Linked DNA regions of Homo sapiens. The protein of the gene in region 1 interacts with the protein of each later gene in a biochemical or structural test. Each region holds a gene or a part of one and is shown in the gene's direction. Other genes may lie near its edges.

What was found.
Region 2: the proteins of SHROOM2 (region 1) and RALBP1 interact in a test that uses a peptide from one of them, tested with the Homo sapiens proteins (one large-scale study listed by IntAct).
Region 3: the proteins of SHROOM2 (region 1) and DGKK interact in a test that uses a peptide from one of them, tested with the Homo sapiens proteins (one large-scale study listed by IntAct).
Region 4: the proteins of SHROOM2 (region 1) and TJP2 interact in a test that uses a peptide from one of them, tested with the Homo sapiens proteins (one large-scale study listed by IntAct).
Region 5: the proteins of SHROOM2 (region 1) and SLC15A5 interact in a test that uses a peptide from one of them, tested with the Homo sapiens proteins (one large-scale study listed by IntAct).
Region 6: the proteins of SHROOM2 (region 1) and TAMALIN interact in a test that uses a peptide from one of them, tested with the Homo sapiens proteins (one large-scale study listed by IntAct).
Region 7: the proteins of SHROOM2 (region 1) and FRMPD4 interact in a test that uses a peptide from one of them, tested with the Homo sapiens proteins (one large-scale study listed by IntAct).

What each region holds. Positions count from the first base shown.
Region 1 is NC_000023.11:9,946,686-9,949,943, forward strand, and holds the end of SHROOM2 (protein Shroom2), read left to right. Parts: coding exon 1-252; 3' UTR 253-2,758; downstream 2,759-3,258. UniProt on the Homo sapiens protein: May be involved in endothelial cell morphology changes during cell spreading. In the retinal pigment epithelium, may regulate the biogenesis of melanosomes and promote their association with the apical cell surface by inducing gamma-tubulin redistribution.
Region 2 is NC_000018.10:9,482,013-9,485,512, forward strand, and holds part of RALBP1 (ralA-binding protein 1), read left to right. Parts: intron 1-3,500. UniProt on the Homo sapiens protein: Multifunctional protein that functions as a downstream effector of RALA and RALB. As a GTPase-activating protein/GAP can inactivate CDC42 and RAC1 by stimulating their GTPase activity.
Region 3 is NC_000023.11:50,468,026-50,472,099, reverse strand, and holds the start of DGKK (diacylglycerol kinase kappa), read left to right. Parts: upstream 1-1,274; 5' UTR 1,275-1,421; coding exon 1,422-2,066; intron 2,067-4,074. UniProt on the Homo sapiens protein: Diacylglycerol kinase that converts diacylglycerol/DAG into phosphatidic acid/phosphatidate/PA and regulates the respective levels of these two bioactive lipids.
Region 4 is NC_000009.12:69,250,777-69,254,276, forward strand, and holds part of TJP2 (tight junction protein 2), read left to right. Parts: intron 1-258; coding exon 259-588; intron 589-2,038; coding exon 2,039-2,124; intron 2,125-3,432; coding exon 3,433-3,500. UniProt on the Homo sapiens protein: Plays a role in tight junctions and adherens junctions. Acts as a positive regulator of RANKL-induced osteoclast differentiation, potentially via mediating downstream transcriptional activity.
Region 5 is NC_000012.12:16,218,686-16,222,185, reverse strand, and holds part of SLC15A5 (solute carrier family 15 member 5), read left to right. Parts: intron 1-3,500. UniProt on the Homo sapiens protein: Proton oligopeptide cotransporter.
Region 6 is NC_000012.12:52,009,946-52,013,167, forward strand, and holds part of TAMALIN (protein TAMALIN), read left to right. Parts: intron 1-546; exon of another isoform or gene 547-617; intron 618-935; coding exon 936-990; intron 991-1,093; coding exon 1,094-1,196; exon of another isoform or gene 1,197-1,237; coding exon of another isoform or gene 1,238-1,262; intron 1,263-3,222. UniProt on the Homo sapiens protein: Plays a role in intracellular trafficking and contributes to the macromolecular organization of group 1 metabotropic glutamate receptors (mGluRs) at synapses.
Region 7 is NC_000023.11:12,718,973-12,722,472, forward strand, and holds part of FRMPD4 (FERM and PDZ domain-containing protein 4), read left to right. Parts: intron 1-1,556; coding exon of another isoform or gene 1,557-1,561; coding exon 1,562-2,886; 3' UTR 2,887-3,500. UniProt on the Homo sapiens protein: Positive regulator of dendritic spine morphogenesis and density. Required for the maintenance of excitatory synaptic transmission. Binds phosphatidylinositol 4,5-bisphosphate.

The sequences.
Region 1 (3,258 bases):
AAGCAGAGAGTCCTGATCCAGCAGCACGAGGACGCCAAGGAGCTCAAGGAGAACCTGGACCGCCGCGAGCGCATCGTCTTTGACATTTTGGCCAACTATCTGAGCGAGGAGAGCCTCGCGGACTATGAGCACTTCGTGAAGATGAAGTCGGCCCTCATCATCGAGCAGCGGGAGCTGGAAGATAAAATCCACCTTGGTGAAGAGCAGCTGAAGTGCTTATTGGACAGCCTTCAGCCCGAAAGGGGCAAATAAGAGACCAGTCCCCGGTGGAGGAGGGGCACGGGGCCTCCGAGCTCCAGCTCCGTTCCCAAGGATACTCGTGAAGACCCCATCTGTGTTCATGGCCTGGAAAGAGACTTCTCCCATAGCAAAGAGGCTGTTATAAAAGCAATAACTTTTGTGTTTGTGTGGGATGATTTATTTAATTTTTTAGTTTCCCCTTTGATTGCTGAGAGCCATTTTCCTTTACACATAACTACACCTGACACCAGGCTCTGCTGGATGTGAGTTTCCACTGCATGGGCTGTGGGCTGGGCCTGTGGTGCCTGCCGAGTGGTCACTGTCAGTGGGAAACCCGTTGTTCCTCCCGTCTTCAGATGCTGAGCCAACTGCTTGGACAGCAGCCAGCGCGTCATGACGTGCATGAGAGGGGGACCCTGGTGCTCATCTTCTCTTGTCATTCATCCAGGCATGGGCTGCCAGGTTTTGTCCCTGCTCGTTCAACAGTGTGAGCATTTGTCTCTGTTATCTAATGATGTTCTCTGACCCAGCAGAAATCATCATCATGATGATGATAATTTATTAACTTTTTGGAAGGGTGAATAGTTTCCTAATGGTTAAAAACCAACTGTGAAAGGAACCACCTGTGTGGTTGGGTTCACTCATTCTCAGATTAAATTGCCACTTAAAGAAATAACGTGCATGCTTTAAAAAACACAGTCACGCACCAAGCAGGCAAATAGCTTTAGTCCTTCTCACCTCACATCACAGTTGTTCTGCAAAGTAAAATTTTTTGGTTAAGAGCGTGTCCAGTAGTAATGTGCTTGTTAGCTGTTTCTCAAGACCAACAGAAGATTTTTTCAGTTACTTTCCCCCCATGTATTTTGTATGCATATGATTGTCCGTGATAATTGGCTACTTTTCCATTGTTTCCTCCTTAAATCGTTTAGCATGGCATGAGGGCCACATTCCATGGACGGGAAGACCCCTTCCTCTTCAGAGGTCCCGTGGACTACACAGCTCCTGAGCTTGATCTTTTTCTGCCATGAAGTTTAAAGATTCTATGCCCATTTCCTTGATTGAAATGGCAGGATTCTAAAGAGAGCCTGGTTTGTTAAAAGAAAACACTGTCATGCTGTCAGTTCCCAATTGACAAGTCACAGACTGGGAGAAAATATTTGCAAATCGTGTATCTGACAAAAGGTTTGTGTCCAGGATGTACAAAGAACTCTCAAACCGGATAGTAAGAAAACAAACAGCCCAAGTGAAAAGCAGGCAAAAGACTTGAATAGACACTTCACCAAAGAGCATACACGCGTGGCAAACAAGCACACGAAAAGACGTTCAGCCGCCGATGGCTTGGTTATAATTTATAACTTACTTATTTTTATCTAATAATTGTAGATTCAGTGTATTTCTTCAAAAAATGTTTAATTAAATGCATGTTAATGGTGAGTGAATCCCTTGGGTGACTTCGTGTTTAGGTCGTATTAGGGCATTTGTTGGATCAACGGATCATTTTAACCCTGACTTCCCCTTATTCCCATAAAAGAAGTTTTCCAGTGGAATGGAGATTTCATTTTGTCAGCAGCAGTGACCACAGCCTTACCAAAGCAGACGCGTGCGCGTGCACAGATGCACACACACAGATGTCTTAAAAGACTAGAATCCACACTTCCTGAGCCAGAGGGGCCGTGTTGACGGTAATGCATTCTCTATAGAGCCAAGTCCAAACTGGCAAGCTCAATGATGCAGGCAATAAACCGCCTTTTTGGCAGCCTACCAATGCCAAAAGGATAAATGTCTTTCCAAAAGTGTGTATTCCTGTTAAATTAAGCTCTTGCTAACTTGAAAAATCCCTGTTCTGCCAGCGAAGCTTCCTCCTCCTCTCCAGCTGGTAGTCACTTGCGTGAATGCTGGTCAGTCTGAAAAGGTGAAGCTGGCTGTGCACTTACCCCCATCTTTCTCCCTCGGGGAGACGACCCAAGGAATTTCAGAGTATTTTGTTTGGCAGAGCTTTTACCTGTTATTCTTTGCCCTCAAATACAGTATTGTGGTCATTTTGATGATATGTGTGTAAAATGTGAATAATCCAATTGGTGTCTGTACTCAGCCTTTTGATGTCTTTTTAGGACTTTCTCTTCTACACAGCAATACGTCGTGCTCGAGTATCCTTGTAGCAAAGCACATAGAGCCAGCTGTCCTGTCAGTTCCCCTGTTTGCCTCTGAAACGTCTGGTTAGTGGGGACCCAAAGATTCTAGTGAGTCAACATCCATAACTCTGTATCTAGTTGTATTATTCATAGAAAATCAATCTGGTGCTAATGGTTGGCCCTGGTGTTGTTGGGTGGCAGCTGCTCCTTCGCCCTCTTGTAGTGTGGCTGTGGAGGGCTCTGCCTATGGGGGGTGGCCTGTGGCTTGTATCCTTCAGTCCACCACAGCAAATGTGTGTAGATTTCATGCTCGACACTTACCACTCACCTATCAACAGATCATCCTGCTTGACTGTAACAAAATAAATAGTGTCTCTTCAAGTGAATGGAGATGTCTTTGATTTACCTACTTTACAGCTTTTGTAAAAAAAGAATGTCCTCACCATACGTCAGATTCTTAAGCCATCTGAGTAAACCGTGGGATTGATTATATGTGTGTAATTTATTTACACTAGTCGGTTTGTGGTGAGGAAACAGGGACCAGGTCGCATCACTTAGCTGGTGCCCCAGTAATGCTGTGTAACAAACTGTAAAATGTCAGCAATAATCTGTGCAACAAAGTATTGACTTAGCTCATGAATTTGTAGATGAGCTAATTCGGGCTGGGCTCTGTGCTGTGTGCCTCTCCTCTTCCTCATGGGACCAGCCGTGTGGCTGGATGTGTTCATGGCAGGGGCACAAGACAACACACCCTGTCACAAAGGGGCTTCTCCTGGCTTTGTCCTGTCATACCTGCTAACCTTCTTCTGGCAAAGCACATCTCCTGGCCAACCCCGGCACCAAAGGGTGTGGAACAGGCTCCACCTTTTAGTGGAGGAACCGTAAA
Region 2 (3,500 bases), on another chromosome or scaffold:
GGATATATTAGCACTTCATATTTTTTATTGCAAAACAGTACTCTCTTATCTGGATATACCACATTTCATTTATCCATTTATCAGTTGAACATCTAAGTCGTTTCTCCTTCTTGACTATTCTGAATAATGCTGGTGTGAATATTCATGTACAAGTTTTTGTGCGGGCATACGTTTTCATTTCTTGTGTATATACCTAGGAGTAGAATTGCTGGGTGTGATGTTATACAATAAGAAATATATATTTGGTCTTGGTCTGGTTCCTAGCCTAGAACTTCAAAGATCCTTGGAACTCCCTGAGTAATAGAGGTAATAGAGCATATTTTGGAATTCATAATAAGTCTCTCAGTCACATCTGAATTTATGCTAATAAAGTGATTCTTGGTAGGCCCCTAGACAACTTCAGGATGGAAGCTGGTTGCCAGAAGAACCAACTGTGTTGATTAGAGAGTTGGAACTTGCAGCCCCACCCCTGGATGGGTGAGGGGGTGGTGGTGAGGACTGGGTATTGAGATCAGTTATCAGTGGCCAGTGATGTAATCAATCATGCCTGTGAAATGGGACCTCCATAAAATCTTCTAAACAGTGGTTTTCAGAGAGATTCTGGGTTGGTGAATGCATCCTTATGCTGGGAAGGTGTTGCTTCAACTTCATGGGACAGAAACTCCTATACTTGGAACCCATCTCGGCCTCACCCTTGTGCCTTTTGATTTGGTGGTTTATTTATATCCTTTATAATAAACTGATAGGCATAAGTAAAGTGTTTCCCTGAGTTTCGGTGAGCCATTCTTGCAAATTATTGAACATGAGGAGGGGGTTGTGGGAACCCCTATTTATAGCTATTTGGTCAGAAGTACAGGTGGCAATGTGCAGCTTGTGGCTGGTAACTGAAGTGAGGGTAGTCTTGTGGAACTAAGCCTGTGGAGTCTGACATAAACTCTGGGCAGTTAGTGTCAGAATTGAATTATAGGGCACTCAGTTGGTGTCTGGAAAGTTGGAGAACTGTATTGGTATGGAAAAACACTTCCACATGTGGTGTCAGAAGTGTTGTTAGAAAACAGCTCATGTGGTAACTCTTGTTGAACAGTTTGAGGAACTGCCAAATTGTTTCCCAAAGCGACTGCACCATTTTATAATCCAATTCTCCAATTTCTCTACATCTTTGCCAATACTTGCCATTTGCTTTTTTAAATTTTAGCTATCTTGGGGTGAAGTGGTATCATGTTGAGGGTTAGATTTTCATTTCCCTGGTGGCTAAGATGTTGAACATCTTTTCATGTGCTCATTGGCCATTTGTATATTCTCTTTGTGGAAATATCTACTGAAATCCTTTGTCCATTTTTGAATTGTATTGTTGGTTATTGAAAGAGTTCTTTGTATGTTTGGTTACTAAATGTTTATCAGATATATGATTTACAAATACTTCTGTTTTCTGGGTTGTCTTTTCACTTTCTTGATAATATACTTTTGATGCATTAAAAGTTTAAATTTTACAGTATAATTTATCTGTTTTTTTTTGTTTGTTTGTTACACAGGCTTTTGGTGTCATGTCTACATTGCCAAATCCAAGGAATGAAGATTTATTCCATACTTTCTTCTAAGAGTTCTGTGGTTTTAGTTCTTATATTCAGTTGTTGGTCCACATTTTTATATGGTGTGAGATAGGGGTCCACGTTTTTTTGTTTTGTTTTGTTTTTGAGACAGAGTCTCACTCTGTCGCTCAGGCTGGAATGCAGTGGCACAATCTCAGGTTACTGCAATCTCTGCCTCCCAGGTTCAAGCAATTCTCATGCTTTGGCCTCCCGAGTAGCTGGGATTACAGGCGAGCGCTACCACGCCCGGCCAATTTTTGTATTTTTACTAGAGATGGGGTTTCACCACATTGGCCAGGCTGGCCTCAAACTCCTGGCCTCAAGTGATCCACCCACCTTGGCCTCCCAAAGTGCTGGGATTACAGGCGTGAGCCACTGCGCCCTGCCAGAGGGGGTCCACTTTTTTGCATGTGGTACTCTAGTTGTCCCATCCTCATGTGTTGAAGAGACCATTATTTCCTGATTGAGTGGTCCTGATATCCTTGTTGAAAAATCAGTTGACCACAAATGTCTGGGTTTTTTCCCCTGGACTCTTTGTTTGATTCTCATGGTTGATATAGCTATCCTTATGCCAGGTACCATGTGCTGTTTTGATTACTGTGGCTTTGTAGTACATTTTGAAATTGAGATGTGTGAATTCTTCGACTTTGCTGTTTCCAGTATTTGTTGGCTCTTCAGGGTCCCTTGCAATTCCATATGAAACTGAGGATCCATTTCTGTAAAAAAGGCCATTGGAATTTTAATAGAGATTGCATTGAATTTGTAAAACATTTTGGGTAGTATTTCTGTTTTAAAAATATTAAGTCCTCCAATCCATTAACAATAGGATGTCTTTTCACTTATTTAGTTTGTCTTTAATTTCTTGCACAATATTTGTAGTTATCAGTGTCAAGTCTTTCACTTCCCTGGTTAAATTTATTTCTATTTTTTTTTTAGGTGCTGTTGCAAATGAAATTGTTTTTTAAATTTGTTTTTCAATTTGTTTTTCACAATTGTTTTTCACAATTGCCTAGTGTTTAGATATACAACTTATTTTCTGTCACCTTATATCGTGTGACTTTGCTGAACTCCTTATTAGTTCCCATAGTTTTCTAGTGTATTCTTTTGAGTTTTGTATATAAGATCATGCTGTCTGTAAACAGAGATAGTTTTACCTCTTCTTTTCCTATATGGGTATCTTTTATTTATTTATTTTTCATTCCTAATTGCCCAGGCTAGAACTTCCCATACAATGCTAAATGAAAGTGGCAATAACAGACTTCCCTGTCTTGTTCCTTATCTTAGGAGGAAAGCTTCCAGTCTTTTACCATTTAGTATAATGTTAACTGTGGGTTTTTCTTTCTTTTCTTATTTTTTTTGAGACACGGTCTCATTCTGTCACCCAGGCTGGAGTGCAGTGGTACAATCATGGCTCACTGCAGCCTTGACCTCCCAGGCTCACGTGATACTCCCACTTCAGCCTCCTGAGTAGCTGGGTCTACAGGCATGAGCCACTATGCCTGGCTAATTTTTGTATGCTTTGTAGAGACAGGGTCTCCCTATGTTGCCCAGGCTGGTCTGGAGCTCCTGGGCTCAAGCTTCTGCTTCAGCCTCTCAAAATGCTGGGATTATAGGCATGAGCCACCATGCCTGGCAACTGTGGGTTTTTCATTGATACACTGTATCAGTTTAAGGATGTTCCTTATGTTCCCAGTTTGTTGAGTACTTTGTTGAGTGTTTGTCAAGTGTGTTGCTTAATTATCTACATATTTTTGAAGTTTTCAACATTTTGTCTGTTATCGATTTTCAGTTTCATTTCATTGTGATCAGAGAACATACTTTGTATGATTTTAGTCTTTTAAAGTTTATTGAGGCATCTTTTATTGCCTAACATATGATCTGTCCTGAGACTGTTCCATGTGCACTTGAGAT
Region 3 (4,074 bases), about 41 Mb from region 1:
GCAGAAAGAAGGCTGCTACCCACAACTGCAGCATTATGTGTATGGGAGATAAATTCACTTGTCATATTTCAAATCAGGTTTACAGGTATTTCTCCCCCGTCCGCTCCCCCCACCCAGCTGTGGCTTAACAGGTAGTCTTCTCAAATTTTAATTACAATTGGTAATATATTGGCGTCTAAAGTCTAGGTCTGACTAAGATGATGGTTTGTGTGTATGTGTACGTGACTATAACAGAAAGAGCTTCTAAAGTCTTCCGATGTGGTGGGAAAGGTGCTGCGCTAGGCATCAGTCGTTCTCTTCCCAAGAGAATCTCCCATCTCTAATGTCAGACTGCTTCAGGAGGTGAAAAGGGTGTGGGTGTTGCAGTGAATTTCCCCAGCCCAAGACACACACACACACACACACAGACACACACACACACGCGCGCGCGCGCGCGCGTTAACAAGTTTGGGGGGGGCGGAAAAACAAACTCCTGCTGATGGCTGGGAAATCCAGCTAAAAGCACAAGGCAGGCTCCTATAGCATAGGCGAGCCAGACAGACGCCCAGATAGCCTCAGCTCCCGAGCGCGAAGCCCAGCTGCTGCCGGGGCACTCTCGACTTGCTCTCGGGGAGGCTGCAGGCTGCGGAAAGCCGGGGCGCCAGCCTCCCTCATCACACTCCTTTCCCGAATCACCTCAAACTCTGTACCCAACGGCAAAGCTCAGAAATGCAAAAAACCGAAGAGGGTCAAATTGTACTTCAATCCAAAGGAGGCTGAACACCCGCCCCCCCCGCACCCCCCCCCCCCACCACACACACACCATGCCGCTTAATTTCTTTTCCCGGCTTAGATAAAAAGCATTACTTGCCCATCGAGGCTTGGAGATGGGGGGCAAGAGGTTGGTCCGAGGCTAAGCTCACCTGCTGCTGAGGTGAGAGAGCAGACACAGGATGGAAGCTATTCTGACCAGCAGCTAAGTGGTTGGGGGATTGCAAAGACCCTCAACTTCGCCTCTGGCTTTTTTTTTTCATTCGTGTCACTAAAGGGTTAAACACGGCAAGGCTCCAGCCCGCCCCCCAACCTCCACGCCGCTCCACTCCCCCTCCCCTTTTTGTCTCTCCCCTCCCCTCCCGCGCGTCGCTAGGAGGTCATCAAGCGCTCTGCCCAGTCCGCGTTCGCAAGCCCCTCTGCTTCCCGCCCATCGGACCCGTGGCTGCTTACGAAGAGGTGTGCGCACACTGAGGGGCGTGTTCCAGCATAGGGAGACGCTGAGCGCCCACGGGTTAGACCTCAGAGCCAAGCCAGCCATGGAGTGGGATGGGGGAAAGTTTGGCACCCTGCGAGGGGCTGCCGGACTGGAGTGGGCGGGGCGCCCGAGGGTACTTTAGCCTTCCAGGCTTAGGGACTCAGGCTGCCCAGACCTGAAGCGGTGTGCGGCCATGGACCGCGGAGCTGCCGCAGCCCAGGGCACTGCCCCGCCTCAGGATGGAGAGCAGCCCGCTGAGTCTCCAGAGCCTCCGCCGCCTTGGCCGCCGCCGCCACCACCACCGGCTCCGCCGCCGGCTCCGCCGCTGCTCTCCGAGGCTTCGCCAGAACCCATACCAGAGCCCTGTCCAGAGCTTGCTCCAGGTCCCTGTCCAGAGGCGACCTCAGAATCAGCCACAGAACTGTACACAGAACCGACCCCAGAACCAGCCACAGAGCCGGCCTCAGAACCGGCCCCAGAACCTGCCACAGAGCCGGCCCCAGAACCTGCCACAGAGCCGGCCCCAGAACCGGCCCCAGAACCTGCCACAGAGTCTGCCCCAGAGCCGACTCCAGAACCTGCCCTAGAGTCGGTCCCAGAGCCGGCCCCAGAGCTGACTCCAGAAGTTGCCCCAGAGCTGGCCCCAGAGCCGACCCCAGAACCTGTGACAGAGCTGGCCCCAGAGTTCTGCCCTGAGGCGGCTCCAGAGTTCCGTCCAAGTCCAGCACCATGTCTATTGCAATGTCCGGTGGACACTCGAGAGAGAGGTCTAAAGACCTCGCCATCGCCATCGCCATCGCCATCGCCCAGAACGCCAATGTCGTGGTCCAGAATAAAGGTAAGCAAAAGACCCCCTGAAGCGGGGAAAAGAAGCAAGGCGAAGTCAGATGGCTATGGAGCCCGCGGGACTCCGGGTACCCCTTGCATCCCGCTTGTCTGGCACTGGCTGGCCAAGATGCTGAGAAAGATGCAGGGATGGGGAACCCGGGGGAATGGGAAGGGGTTGGGAGGCGGGAAGCAACATGTGGGAATCGAGAATGGGCTGTTTGGGGCTAGAAACGGGGGTGACAGCAGGGGGTGGGAATCGGAGCAGTTTTCCCCTTGAAGAGAAGCGACAGTGCGGTGAGCGCCAATATCTTGAAAGAGAGGAGGAAGATACCCTCGGGGAGCGCAAGAGACCTGGAGAAGTGTTTGGGGCTGGCCCCGAATACATAGCGGACGGATTGAGTGGGGGCGGTGGGACACACCTCTTAGCCGCGGTCACTGCCGCAGAGGCCCAAGCTGCGGAGCCTTCGCCTGCTTGGCCCCCTCCCTGCCACTGGGGAGGGGGCGCCTCAGCTGGGCGCAACTGGCGGCCCTCCAGGGAGGTGCCCGGCGCCTCTGCCGGCTGCTTCGAGCTGGTACTCCTGGTGAGGACGAGGGGATGGGCGGCGCCCACGCGCACTGCAGGGGAAGGGCAGGGTTCTCCGGGAGGAGGGGGAGAGCATGCGTGTGTCGAAGCCACCATTCCATCTGTCTGCAGGATTTCCCAGCAGGTAGGTGCAAACGCAGTGATACAATGTTGCGCAGCGTCACAAACGGGGCAACTGGCATCCCGCACCAGGGCCAATTGGAATGGTACAGGAGTCCTGGTTTAGAGACACGAAAATAGGAGTTGGGATTGCAGAACGTGTGAAGGGGAACCTTCATCTCTACCAGTCTACCGCGACGCCTTCTAAATCGTTACACTTAGCCGGGAAAAGATGAGTGGAGAATCTTCTGGCACTCGCCCAAGGGGAGTAGGGAGGAAAAAGGTTTTCGTGTTTACCTTGGACCCTGAAACCCCGTCTGCTCTTAAGCGGGAGTATGCCTGTCTTTCCTGCTTTCTCTGCACTCTCCCTACTCTTCCTTTACCCTAAACTTCGTTCCACAAAACTGAAAACCAGGATAATGCACACACACACCTCAATTTAGCTTCCCCTGCAGGAAGACATACACACGCGCGCGCATTCACACACACACACACACACACACAAACGAATAACACAACACACGAACAATACCGGTCCATCCTGCTGCCTAGCAGACCATAAGGACACGGCTCAGGAACCCTTCTGCTGTGGACCGCACACTTATAGAATGTAGAATGCGGGAGGGGAGGGGGCAGATTGGCATCACGAAATGGAAGCATTGGTTGCTTCCTGAGTTCTTAGTAGGGAGGCTTGAGTTTGCAAAATATCTGCAATGACGAATAACTGAAAAAGAAGGCTAAAATGAAAAGTTTCACAGAGAAAAGAAAGTGCAGAGGTTTAAAAATAAATAAAACATGACGGTGGGAGACTCTGATAAGTTTTTAAAAATTCAACACCCTAGCTCTCACCAGGGGATGTATCCCTCCCCTTCCTGAAAATACCCTTTCCTGCAGTGATCTTAAGAAGGGCAAAGTTGGGGTGGCTAGATTTGGGAGCTCACCCTCACCGGGTGATTGATCTTGTCTTTTTGGAAGAGTTTGCATTAAGCTGGTGGGAAAGAGACAAGCAGGAATCACCTGACCTGTGGCCATCTTAAGCGAAATTTTGGGAACATGGCTGTGAAACTGACACGTGGGGACGTAATACCCAGAGAATGCATCTCCCCTTTGGCCTCTGAAAGGCTGACTGGCGACCAGGACCCTTCCCCCAGTGAAAAGCATCCCCTGCTCCCATGCGAAAGCATCTCCTACCTGTTTGACAGGAAAATGTCATTGCCAGACAGATGAGGAAGATTAAGGTAAGGGGAATCAGATTAGTTTCCTCTACGTAGTGCCCACTCAGACGTGCTGGCTAGCTGACCCACAGACATCTGGCAACACTGGCAGGAGACCAGGA
Region 4 (3,500 bases), on another chromosome or scaffold:
CAATCACAGCCCTCCCAGCACTTTCCCTATTCCTTTTTGGCTTCCTGACATTCCTAATAGACTAGTATAGGAAGGGAGGTAGGGCTCAGGAAGCCTGGCCAGTGGCTGTTTGCCCTGCTGTATTACATTCCTTGTCAGAATGGTATTTGTGGACCACCTTTGGAAACTGATCAGGAAATGGAGTGTATTAAATCACTAATATAGATTTGAAAATAAACTTAAAAGCCCAGGGTGAAAACGTGTCATTGCTCTCCGCAGGCCAAAACCCAGAACAAAGAAGAATCCTATGACTTCTCCAAATCCTATGAATATAAGTCAAACCCCTCTGCCGTTGCTGGTAATGAAACTCCTGGGGCATCTACCAAAGGTTATCCTCCTCCTGTTGCAGCAAAACCTACCTTTGGGCGGTCTATACTGAAGCCCTCCACTCCCATCCCTCCTCAAGAGGGTGAGGAGGTGGGAGAGAGCAGTGAGGAGCAAGATAATGCTCCCAAATCAGTCCTGGGCAAAGTCAAAATATTTGAGAAGATGGATCACAAGGCCAGGTTACAGAGAATGCAGGAGCTCCAGGAAGCACAGAATGCAAGGGTAATTGTTTTTAAACTACACATCATCAATAAGAGTTTTAAATAAGTTTGATTTCAACATAACAGCGAACAGCCCCTTTGCTGCTGCTGCAGATGTGGCAGGGATGCACTGCACCAAAGGCAGGTGCTGTGTATGTCACTTCAGATTGCCAGCTCCCAGCACGTCCCTTGTTCTTCCAAAGAAGAAAACTTGACAATATAGGGGAAGAAGATTCTGCTCTTTATACACAGAACTTTGTATAGAGTTCTGGAATGAGGAAGTGTGAGGAGGGAATCAGTGCCTCTCGGAAGTCGTTTTAATTAGAATGTGATTTTTTTTTCTTAAACGTGTCTTCATTGGCTCCCAGATTTGCCGTAGAAACCAAGCAAACTGGGTGCTAAAACAGAAAGGCCCATAGATTGTACTTTTTGAGCTGTTTGAATTTGTATACCATATGCACATAGAACTTTTCAAACAAAGAAGAATTTAACTAAAGGTCTGTGGAGTATATTTGCCCAGTAGATGTGGGAGTTTTCTTTCAGGTCTAGCACAACAGCAGCAGTACATCTGAGCATTTTTCTTTTCTTGTCGTAAAATATACATAACATAAAATTTACCATTTCAACCACTTTTTTCTTTTATTTATTTTGTTTTGTTTTGTTTTGTTTTGAGACAGGGTCTCCCTCTGTCACCCCGGCTGGAGTGTAGCAGTGTGATCACAGCTCGCAGCAGCCTCCACCTCTCAGGCTCAGGAGATACTCCCACCTCAGCCTCCTGAATAGCTGTAACCACAGGCACATGCCACTGCACCCAGCTAATTTTTCGTATTTTTTGAAGAGACAAGGTTTTGTCATGTTGCTAGGCTGGTCTCGAACTCCTGGGCTCAAGCAATGCACCCTCCTCAGCCTCCCAAAGTGCTAGGATTACAATCATGAGTCACTGCACCCAGCCTCAACCATTTTAAAACGTTCGGTTCAGCGGCATTAAGTACCTTCACATTGCTGTTCAGCCATCACCACCATCCATCCCCAAAACTTTTTTATCCTTCCCACGTGAAACTCCGTACCCATAAAATACTAACTCACCACTCTCCTCTCCCCGCAGTCCCTGGCACCCACTCCTTTACTTTCTGTTTTTTGTGAATTGGACAGTGTAGGAACCTCCTATAAGTAGAATCATACACTATTTGTCTTTTTGTGATTGGCTTATTTCCCTTAGCATGATGTCCTCAAGGTTCATCCAGGTTGTAGCATGTGTCAGAGTTTCATTCCTTTTAAATAGTTTTCCTGTCTGACGTGTACCGCACATAACCATGGAAATGAGGAGGCCGCTTCTGTGTTTCCTCTTCTTGAAATGGGATGGGAAAATAAGTAGGATATGGGGAAAGGGTGGGACCAGCAGGAAACCAGCAAGCAGAGTGCCCAGTGGTTCATTCTTTCACTCTTATTCTTTTCTTTTTTAATTACCACAGATCGAAATTGCCCAGAAGCATCCTGATATCTATGCAGTTCCAATCAAAACGCACAAGCCAGACCCTGGCACGCCCCAGCACACGAGGTAAGGGCTGCCTAGTGGGTACAGGTCTAAGGCGGGGACTTCTCAAGGACTGGGACTTGAAGAAAGAATTTCCTTTACCCAAATTTCAGAGTAACAGGAGGATTTTTTCCCCACAGATTGACTGTTTGCCTTACTCATTCCATCAAATTTAATTGTAAAGATTACAGAGTCAAAACTTAAGCATAGTTTGCTTGTGTGCTAAAACTCTGACAAAGTGTAATCATTGATGTTTCCAGCCAGTACATTTGACACATTGGAGCCTGGTTATGTTACATTGCACATGGTTAGCACATGAGCAGAATTCCTACGGCTTAGACCTGTTTTGTCTTGTTTGCTGACTCTCAGCCAAACTTCTTAATTCCTTTGCATCATCCAGCAAAGTCAGACCGCTTGTGCTGCCCTGGGGTCTAAAGGGACCGTGACAAGCAAATGAGCAGTCTTGGTAAATGCCACACAAACAGTAGGAATGTTCACAGTGTCTTCCTGTTGAAGTTTTATACTGGATTGCTTCCTGCTTCCGAGAATAGAAAAAAAAAAGTCACATTTTCTTGTGGCCATTCTTTTGTTTTTTTTGGAGACAGAGTGACTGTCGCCCAGGCTGAAGTGCACTGGTGCAATCTCAGCTCACTGCAACCTCCGTCTCTCAGGTTCAAGCGATTCTCGTGCCTCAGCCTCCCGGGTAGCTGGGATTACAGGTGTGTGCCACCATATCCAGCTAGTTTTTGTATTTTTAATAGAGACAGGGTTTCACCATGTTGGCCAGGCTGGTCTCAAACTCCTGACCTCCGCCCGCCTCGGCCTCCCAAAGTGCTAGGATTACAGGTGTGAACCACTGTACCCAGCCTCTTGTGGCCATTCTGACTGGAAGCTGAAGTCTAGTTTTCCAGTGATAGAAAACTGGAAACAAATTTCTTCTTTACCAGCTGAGTGGTAACACAGTCAACCAGGTTGCCTCTGGCAACAAAGAGTTCTTGGTTATGATGGACTGAAACTGGCAGAGACCTCGCTGCTGGGTGAGACTAGCCAGGGAGCTTAGGGGTAAGGAGGGCACCCCCTGTCCAACAGGGAGATTCTTAGGTCAGGGAGCACCTGGCTGGCTTCCTCACTCACCGCCGAAGTGGGCATTGGATTTGACCTATTACGAACCTGGAGCAGGACCAGGGATGCCCTGGTTGCTCTGCAGAATGTGGCTCAGAGGTAAGTGATCTGCTCGGGATACCCAGTCACTGTGCTCAGAGCCATGCCTCCCCGGGCAGCCGGAGGACATGGATGTGCTCTGGAATGTCTTTAACACCCTTTTTTTGTTAGTTCCAGACCCCCTGAGCCACAGAAAGCTCCTTCCAGACCTTATCAGGATACCAGAGGAAGTTATGGCA
Region 5 (3,500 bases), on another chromosome or scaffold:
AAGTGGAAGATTTTATGTAAAGCAAAAACCGCAGTGCCCCGTATATAGACAGCATTCAATAATTAGCAGTTATAATGTGTTGTTATCATTACTAAAAGTAATGGCAAAAACCACAATTACTTTTTCACCAACCTAATATTATTATCATGTTTCACATGAATTAATAGTGTCAGACTCAGAACAGAAGCACAGGTGTCCTGTTCCCAGCTCTTTCTGCCATAAACCACCTGAACAGCTGGGAGACCTGGAAGCATAAGCAGAACTGTCTCTCACTTGATTCATCCTAGATCCATCTCTTTCCTCTCACCTCTCCCCTCCAATCCAACAGCAAGTCCTCATTTTTACTCTGAAATATAACTTAAATCTGGCCACATCTCACTATCCCCTTTGTTCTCCTGGTGTACAACACCATCATCTCCAGCCCCAATTCGACCAGAGCCTCTGAACTTTTCTCCCTGCTTCCTCTCCTGCCCCATGAGTCCATTCTCTTCAAAACAGTTGTGGTGTTCTTCTCAAAACATAAGTTCTATCATTCCCCTGATTGAAATTCCACAGTAGAGTTTTAGAGATAAATTATTCACAATGGTGAATAATGTTCCACATGATTTGGTCTCCACGTGTTGTTCCACCTACATTTGGTTACAATCTGCCCCTTGACCACATCCCCAGAAATGTGTGTGTTTCTAAGATGCTAGATTTCTGTCTACCCCAAGTCCTTTGTACTTGCTTTATCCTTTATTCAGAATTCCCTTTCCTCTGTTTTCAAATGACTGGCTTCTCATTATTGAGCTTTCTCAAAGGTCTTCTCTTTGGAGGGGCTTCCTTGAGCATTCCATCACTTTCCACTTAATTACCCTGGTTTTTTAAATAGCACTTGTCAGAATCTGAAATTACTTTATTTATATTTGTATTGCCTGCCTCTCACTGTAAGAATATACATTCCTGACATCAAGGTATGTTTCTCCTTTCCGAAAAGTACATATACAAAATAGGTGATCAATAAATACATTTTGATTGAAGAAACAAATGAATGAAGTCTACGGCTATTTCTATATGGTACAATAAAAATGTATTATTCAAACTTTTGACAGTGTCCTACATTGATGGCATTGAGCAAGGAAACACAGTGAATCACTCCATAAATGACAGTAGACATAGCCTACCCTACTAAGACATGTTATACATTGGAGATGAGCTAGAAAAAAAAAAGCAGTAGGAAACTTTTCAAATTATGTTTTAATTGTAGCAGCGTACACCTCAGCTGTCTCATACCCTATGTTTGTTTATTCAAAAAATACTGTGTGGGTGTCTACAGTGTGCCTAATACTGCTCTCGAAGTTTTAGACACATCAGTTAAAAAAAATAAGACAAAAATTTCTGCCATTATAGCTTATAGCATCTCTGTGGTTGAGTAGTGGAGAGTAAGTTGGGAAGATAGAAGGCTCTAATCAGAGAAGGGTGCACAAAATTGTGATTATGGAGTGGGTACAGTTATTGATCCAACACATGGTTTTGCAGGCCAGTCTCTGTTACAATTACTCAACTATGTCATTGTGGTATGAATGCAGCCATAGACAACATATAATAAATGAGCGTGGCTGTGTTCCAATAAAACTTTATTAAAATAGGTGGCAAACTGAATATTACCTGACCATAGCTGGCCAACCACTGGTCTGAGGTACAAGGCATAGGCCATGACCTTGGGTGTGAGTGGAGTGGAAGCTGAGGTAGATTGGAGATCAGACATTGGAGGTCAAGGAACTGGACAACCAAGATTGAAAGGATGGAAGGTGGGAAGGATGATCTACATGTATAGTAAAATTGCCAAGTATTAAGGCAGAAGTAGTACCAGAGAGTGTGACAATGAGAGAGGAACTGACAACTCTGAGAAAAAGAGGAAAATGTCCTATAGATTGGCAGATGACAGCATGAAAGGGAAGTAGATGATATAGTCTGATAACATGAGCTTCAAAGCTGAAGCTTTTTTAGGGTTAAGGGAGATATAATGGTCTAAAAATGGCAACAGGATAAAGTTCCATTTTCTGGGACTGTGGTACTTCTTCTCCACATGTTCAAAATAACTTTTCACCAAACACAATACACACATTTTAACTGTTTAAGAACAACGAGAGTAAAAAATATTTCCAGCAATAAGTCCCCAGTACCAGGTGCCTTAGGAAGGTGGTTATGGCCCTATATTTTGAAGATTCCTCATATGCTGTGATGTGGCATCTTTACAAGCACTAACCAGCTACTACCTGGAGGCACATTTTTAGCGCTCATTGGCAAGAAGACCAGCTTTCACGTACACACTGAATATTTTTTATTGTGTCTTCATAGAAAAACGGGAACTTTACAATAGTGACAGACTTATTGATATTATCTACATTGTAATGGGCTAAAAGAAATATCTCGGAGCCTAAAAAAAATCAAATTGATGATCACTAAAGTTTCAAAAGATCAGAACATGCAAGTAGATGCCTAAAAATGAAGATTCGAGGACTTGAAAAGCTAAGTCCTATAAAAGGGAACTGGAGGTTTTCAAAAACGACTAAAATGACACCAAAGAGAGATTAACCAGCAGGCAGAGAGCTGGCAAAGTGTGTTCATGAATTATATACCGTACCAGAAGTTCTAGCAGGAGAAAAGCATAGGATTAATAATTAACTAGCAGAGTAATAATGGGCTTGTATGTTCTGCTTTTTCTTAGTGAAAGAAATAGGCCTACTTACTCTTTCTGCTCATTGCTTGTCTCCTTGTACTTATGGAAAGGAAAGTTTATAAGCCAAATCCTTTTTATAACTGTGAATCATTTATTCCCAAAGCCTATTCAGGCTTCCTCTCATATTCCCATTTGGACCTTTCTGAAAATACTCCAAGGTTCCTGCTGGTGATTGGTACTACACAAAGAGCTGTGCTACCGTGCCACCAATATTTGAAGCCCTTCTCCACAGTATTTTACCTATCACCATTATTATCTTCATCTCCAATCAGCGTTTGTGGGAAAAGTGCACATTTAGCACTGCCCTTTGTACTAAATAATGTGCTGTTTCTGCTCCAGAGTTTAAAGTCCAGGAAAGATAAACTGATGCCTTTTCCCACCTCTCAGTTCCAGCACTGAGCACTTTCCTGAAGTGCAAAATGGGATTCCTTTAAATCTTTATGGGATAAATAAATCAAGACATGTGCAGGACACACCGAAAGTAAAACAGAAATTTTAAATTAAGGAAGGAGCATTAATACATTTACATCATGTGTTAGTAAGATCATGGAAAAGTTCTGGTAAATGCAGAGTTTTGCTGCAGCAAAGTATTAAAAACAAACAAACAAGCAAACAAAAAACCAGGGGTAAATATTCCCGAGAGGAGCAGGAAGAGATAATAAGATCTCTTACTTCTCATAGAGAAGGAAACTAAATGTTTAGTGTTTACAGTACAGTCATGCAACACGTAACAACATTTTGATCAATGATGGATCACGTATATGACGGCAGTTTCATA
Region 6 (3,222 bases), on another chromosome or scaffold:
CAAAGAAAGCCTAAAGTATTTACCATTTGGCCCTTTGCAGAAAAAGTTTGCTGACCCTTCCAAAAAACCCTAGAACATTGGGGTAGACGCGGAACTCCCAGCCACCCTGCTCCCTGCCCCAATAGTACAGAGAGGGGAAAGGCCTGCTGTTCAGAGTGAGAGGGGCTCGAGCTGGAGTGGGGAGGTGCTGCTCAGCATTTGGGGGAATCTCTGGGTCAGGCTGGAAGCGGAGAAGCCTGGTCTCCAGGGCCTTTCCGAGGCTGAGCTACTTGAAGGGGCCTTTGGAGGCTGCTTTAACTGTGCCTCTGGCTGGGCGGGAAGGAAGGGGGTGGGAGTGGGCAGAGGAAACTCTGGGCTCCCCCAGCAGGCGAGGATCTGGAGCAGCTCCAGACCATTGTGTCCAGCGGGCAGGCCTTCAGTGCGGGAAGGGGCGGCCTCGAGGCTCCCCTCCCCCAGCCCCCACATCTGGTGGGCTGGCCCCAGCATAGCTGGGAGGAGCAGCTGTGGTCTTGCTGAGCCTCGTGACTGGCCTCTGGGGGTGGGGCCAGTCCTCTCTCCAAAGCTGTGGAACAGAGGAGGCTCCAGGCTGTGGCTGAATTTCGGGCCTTAGCTAGTCAGTAAGTGGTACTGTAGGGCTCACTGGAAAGCTGGGATGGGGCTAAAAAACTCAGCCGGCTCATCCTTCAGGGGACCGGCCCTTCTCTGTGCTTCCCTCCCACCACTAGAGGCTGGATTGGTTCTCTGTGGCTCCATGAGGCTGATTTCAATTGGGTATGGGAAAGACATTCCAATAATCTGTGATGAGACTGAGCTGTCACTGGAGACAGAGTCCTGCTGGAATGTTCTAGACCAGTTGCCAATATCCAGGGAGGCCCAAGCTATGGGACTTCTACACCTTTTAATCCTAATTGTCTTGACCCCTGTGTCTCTTGCAGGAAAGTGCTGACGTTGGAGAAGGAGGATAACCAGACCTTCGGCTTTGAGATCCAGGTGGGAGAAGCTGCACACAGGGGTCAGGGGGGTTGGATGACCAGCCTGAGGGATGAACGGACTTGTCCCAACCCTGGGCTGAGGGTCCCCTTGTCCATTACAGACTTATGGCCTTCACCACCGGGAGGAGCAGCGTGTGGAAATGGTGACCTTTGTCTGCCGAGTTCATGAGTCTAGCCCTGCCCAGCTGGCTGGGCTCACACCAGGTGGGGCCTGAGCCCAGGACACCCAGGTCTGGGAAGGGGATATGACCTTACTCCCAAGCAAAGGGGGTGAGCAATCTCTCCTGAAATCAATTCCTCTTCCTTTTCCTTCTTTGAGAAGGCCAGAAAGAAGAATGGATAGAATCTGGGCTTTGGATCTAGGCAAATTTGCCATGTACTGTGTGATCTTGCACAGCCCCATCTACAAAATGAGGGTAATAATGCATCCAAACATCACAGTGCGGCAAGGGGATTCCCTGGGCACACTGCCAGGGCCTAATTAATGGTGGATGATGCTGCTGCTGCTCTGATTCCTCCCAGCAACCCTGGCAGTCAGCATGGGCAGGAGCCAGGGAAGAAGCAACATTCCATTAAGTCTGTTTGATATTGGGGATCAGGCCAATCCTGCCCCAAAATGGGCCCAGTGCTGAGGAACCGATGTTACTCCCTTTTAAAAAATTAGAAACTTTTTTTTTTTTTAAGAGACAGGGCCTCAGTCTGTCACCCAGGCTAGAGTGCAGTGGCGTAATCATAACTCACTATAACCTTGAACTCCTGGGCTCAAGCGATCCTCCTCTTGCCTCTGCCTCCCAAAGCAATATGTTACTTCCTCTAACAAGGAAATTATGCTTCAGCAGGAGATCCCTGGATTGAGCAGATCTAGAGTCCCCAGGTTCCAGGAAGGGCAGCCTGAAACTGTATGAATCAATCCCCCCTCCACCATCTTTGCCCCTAAGCCCCTACCTCCTTCCCACTTACCAGCAGCCCGTGCTAGCTATCTTAGTCCATTTTCTGTTACCATAACAGAATACCTGATACTGGGTAATTATAAAGAAAAGAGGTTTATTTAGCTCATGGTTCTGGAGGCTGGGAAGTTCAAGACTGGGTGGCCGCATCAGGTGAGGGCCTCATGCTGCGTTCTGACATGATGGATGGCATCTCATGGCAGGAACGCCTGCAAGAGTGGTGAGTAGGCACACGCAAAAGAGACAAAACATGGGTGATCTTGCTTTATAGCAACCCACTCGCCAGGTAACTAAACCAGTCCTACCAGAGCAAGAACTCACTCCCCAAAAACAGCATGGATCCCTTCACTGGGCAGATCCTTCATGGCCCAAATGCCACTTTTTTTGAGATGGAGTTTCGCTCTTGTTGCCCAGGCTGGAGTGCAATGGCATGATCTCAGCTCACTGCAGCCTCTGCCTCCCAGATTCAAGCAATTCTCCTGCCTCAGCCTCCCGAGTAGCTGGGATTACAGGCACTGGCCACCAAGCCCAGCTCATTTTTGTATTTTTAGTAGAGATGGGGTTTTGCCTTGTTGGCCAGGCTGGTCTCGAACTCCTGACCTCAGGTGATCCACCCGCCTCGGCCTCCCAAAGTGCTGGGATTACAGGTGTGAGCCACGGCGCTCGGCCCCAAATGCCTCTTAAAGGTCCTACCATCTCTCAGCACTGTTACGTTGGGGATGAAGCCTCAACATGAGTTTTGGGGACAAACAATATTTAAATGGTAGCAGTAGCCAAGTGGTATACTACAACTTCTCAAAGTAGTTTCAAATCCACTCTCCCTCCCCATCATCCCTGAAGCATCCACAGCAGGGATCCATACCCCTTTTTACAGATAGGAATGGGGCCCTGACATGGGGCACACTGTGCTTGAGGTCAGGAAGCTCTCCAGTGGTGCAGGGTAGCAGAACTATCCCTCTGGGGGCCAGTCATTCCCTGTGCTTCTCTCCCACCACCAGAGGCTGGACTGATTATCTGTGGATCCATGAGGCCATGCCATGCCTGGGGCCAGGGTCGGTTCCCAGCTGGGTGCTGCTCACCTGCTCTTCCCTGAATTGACTGGGTCTTATGGCCAGCGTGGACTGGACAGAAATAACCAAATCTGAGGGTAGCCCAGGGTCCTGGGTGGGCTTAGCTTTGGGACAGAACTTCTTTTTTTTTTTTTTTTTTTTGAGACGGAGTCTCGCTCTGTCGCCCAGGCTGGAGTGCAGTGGCGCGATCTCGGCTCACTGCAAGCTCCGCCT
Region 7 (3,500 bases), 2.8 Mb from region 1:
GGTGAAAATGGCATTTGCTCTTTATAATCTTACTCTGTGCTTGCTTTCAGAATTGGATGGGGCAATATGTTTTTCCTAAATTCTAAATGCAGATGTTTAGCAATGCCCAGTGTGACTTTTAGTTATATGATAGTATTGCTTAGAGTCACATAACAGTTTGATTTTCTTCCCAAGACATCTGAGTTCTAATTCTGCCATTTCATTATTGAGGGACAAGGAAGGATAAGAGAGCAGGGTATCAGGGAGATTGGAGGGGTTTGGAGAGATCATTTGCCTTTCGGCAATCTTACTGATTCCTCCCTACTCTGTAAGACTGCTCTATATGGATGTTCTGAAGTGTCTTGCATACCCCAGTGTCAGGAAGATTTTGAGGCTATTCCTGATGAGCTGCTTTATTTTCCCCAAAATAATAAAGTGTAAACACACGTAGAAAAAAGAACACATCCACCTTCTGTATCCCACCTTCACCACTCCACCACTCAATGGCAGGCATTCCCCTCACCGATCCACTTGGCTGGCCATCACATGGCAAAAGCAGATACTCTTTCATACTTTTATGTTTCAAATTATGTCATCAATAGTGTCTTTTCCATACAGGTCAATGGAAGTTAGTGACATCTTATATTGGTCATTTTCTATTCCTGTTCTTTTAAGATTTTCTACTTTCTCAAAACCCACCACTGGCTTTACCTCCTTTGGAAAAGCTGTCTGTGAATATCACCTAACTCATCACCCAACTGCATCTTTACCTCTAAACTAAGTCACACTGTTTAATCCTTCATGATTTATAAAGAACTTTCACCTGAGTTACCTCTTGCTTCTCACAAAAATTCTGTGAGATGGGGATTATTTGCTTCACATGACAGCTTTTCTTAAAGAAAAAAAAAAATGTTGAACAACTGGCCCAGTGTTTCAACTTCAGACTTTTACCAGGCAAACCTCATGCTGACTTCTTAAAAAGATTCACTTATTTAATTTGCACTAATTAAATTAGGCCACTTCTTTAAAAGAAAGAAAGGAAAGAAAGGAAAGGAAAGGAAAGGAAAGGAAAGGAAAGGAAAGGAAAGGAAAGGAAAGGAAAGAAAGAAAGAAAGAAAGAAAGAAAGAAAGAGAAAGAAAGAAAGGAGGAAGAAAGAAAGAAAAGAAAAGAAAAGTAACAATGCCAGATTTAACCTAATTCCCTTGAAATGAAACTTAATATCTCCAATATATTTGAATAATCTATACACAGTTGTTTTCTGTGTCTAAGCTTTGATGGGTAGATATTGGGAGTAAGGCAATTCATGAAATCCCTGAAAATGTTTGGGATTTCTAGACAATTCCAAATGAATCAGCAGTTCCAGAAATAACAGATTCCAGTATTTTCTTGATATTCATTAAAATGGAAATTTGTTATGAGATATCAAGAGGCAGTCTTTGGAAAGCAGGGTGACCTTAGCATCGGCAGCCCTTCCAGACTACAACCTTGAGAAATGACAGACATCATGTAGAGATGTAGTAAAAATGACCTCCCAGGAGATGCTTAATGATTCTCTCTGTTTTTCTACTACCCCTAGTGTAGCTTTGACAGAGCCTGGGAAGGAGAGACGAGGAGGCATGCCTTCAGCTTGGTCTCAACATCCTGAAGCTGATCCCATCCTGCTACCATCAAACATTCACTCGGAATCAAAGGTGCCAATTCCAAATCAAGACCCTAATGATTTCTCCCAAGCAAATCAGGCATACGGAGAGGCTGTGAGCTGGCGGCCACCGGATCTGAGAGGGGGGAGCCTCAGGACACCTCCCAGCCAGAAGGCTCTGAGACATAGCAGCAGTATCCTCTCCGGATCTGTCGATTTGGAGACCTTCCGAGAGAGAACCAAGGGTGCAGTCAGCTTAAAGTGTCCAGGCATCACAGAAGCACAGGAGGCCAGTTCTGAAAGGCGAGCAGAACTCCCCCTGGGGAGGAAGCTCACCAAAAGTTTTTCCCAAAGCTCAATGCACTTGAGCTCTGAGGGGAGGTTTCACAAAAGGTCCCCAGTGGCTCATAAAGACTCAAAGCTGTATAGGACATTACCCTTGCGGAAGCTGGAGGGCAGCAATTGGAGATGCCGGGGACCCTTCAGCTATTGCTTCCTGAACCGAGGGCAGGATGAAGATGGTGAGGAAGAAGAGGAGAGGGGAGAGGCCACCGTCCAGGTCTCTTGCCTCTATAGACCACAGATGACTCAAGCCATGCCAGAACCAAGCAGCCCATGCCTGGCTGTGGCGATTCAGAAGCAACGAGGGGAGCTATCCAGAGGGTCAGTGCTGAAGGTCTGGGCAGAAGACCTGCGAGACCCAGATGACTTGGACTTCAGCAACCTGGCTTTTGATGCCCGGATTGCAAGAATAAATGCCCTAAAGGAGAGCACATATGCAATGCCTGATGGGTTCCTTGCAGCCCAAAATGATGCCAATGAGCTGCTCTGTCTCGTCAGGGCAACCAAGGAGAAGAGGGAGGAGTCACGCCCTGAAGCGTACGACCTTACACTTTCTCAGTACAAGCAACTGTTATCCATTGAGTCCAGACAGTTGGGAAGTGCCTGTAGGAAAATGGCGATGGCTGAGAAAAGCCCGGAGGAGATGCTCCTAGCTATGACTTCCAGCTTTCAAGTGCTCTGTTGCCTAACAGAAGCTTGCATGCGATTAGTTAAAGTCGTGAACTCAGAAACACAGCGGCAGGAAATTGTAGGGAAGATCGATGAAGTGGTCATAAATTACATTTGTCTACTGAAAGCTGCCGAAGCAGCCACTGGAAAGAACCCTGGGGACCCTAATGTTGGACTCTCGGCGCGACACTCAACCACCATGGCCGCTCTCGTAAGCACACTGACACGTTCTCTCAAGAGGCTTTTAAACAAATAAATATGGAAGTCACGTCATAATCTACCTTTGCAAAGCCATACATGAACTTTTATTTACTTTGTGTGTATGATGAACAGATGTCTCCTTTCTTCTCTCTGTATATTTTGTTATTTTATATAAAATAGGAGATAAAAGTCACATTGATGAAATGTTGAAATGTACTAATCAGATGTATTCTGTTTATATTATACATATATATACACGTAAAAGAAATATCCAAGAAAGTGATGACATTTGGCTATTTTTCATATAGTTAAAACTCCAGGTATATGATGTGAAATTTTAAATTCTACCATGTTAGAGCAAAACAATGAATCCTATCCCCTTTCTTTCCAAGTAGCTACTTGGAAACCATATCATTCATATTTAGAAGTAAAACACAAAACAAAAAAGAGAGAGAAAAGAAAAGAAATCACAATGTATATAAAACAGTACTTATGTTTTAAAATTATGATTTTTAAGCATTGGAAATAGCAAAAAGACATTTAAAATTCAAGAAGCTATTATGAATTACTAGAGAATATATCTGTAATAAATTAATTTTTTGCTCATAGTATTTGGTTACTGGATGCTTTCTTCCAAGAATCCCACATATTTAATTTGGGTTTTTGCTA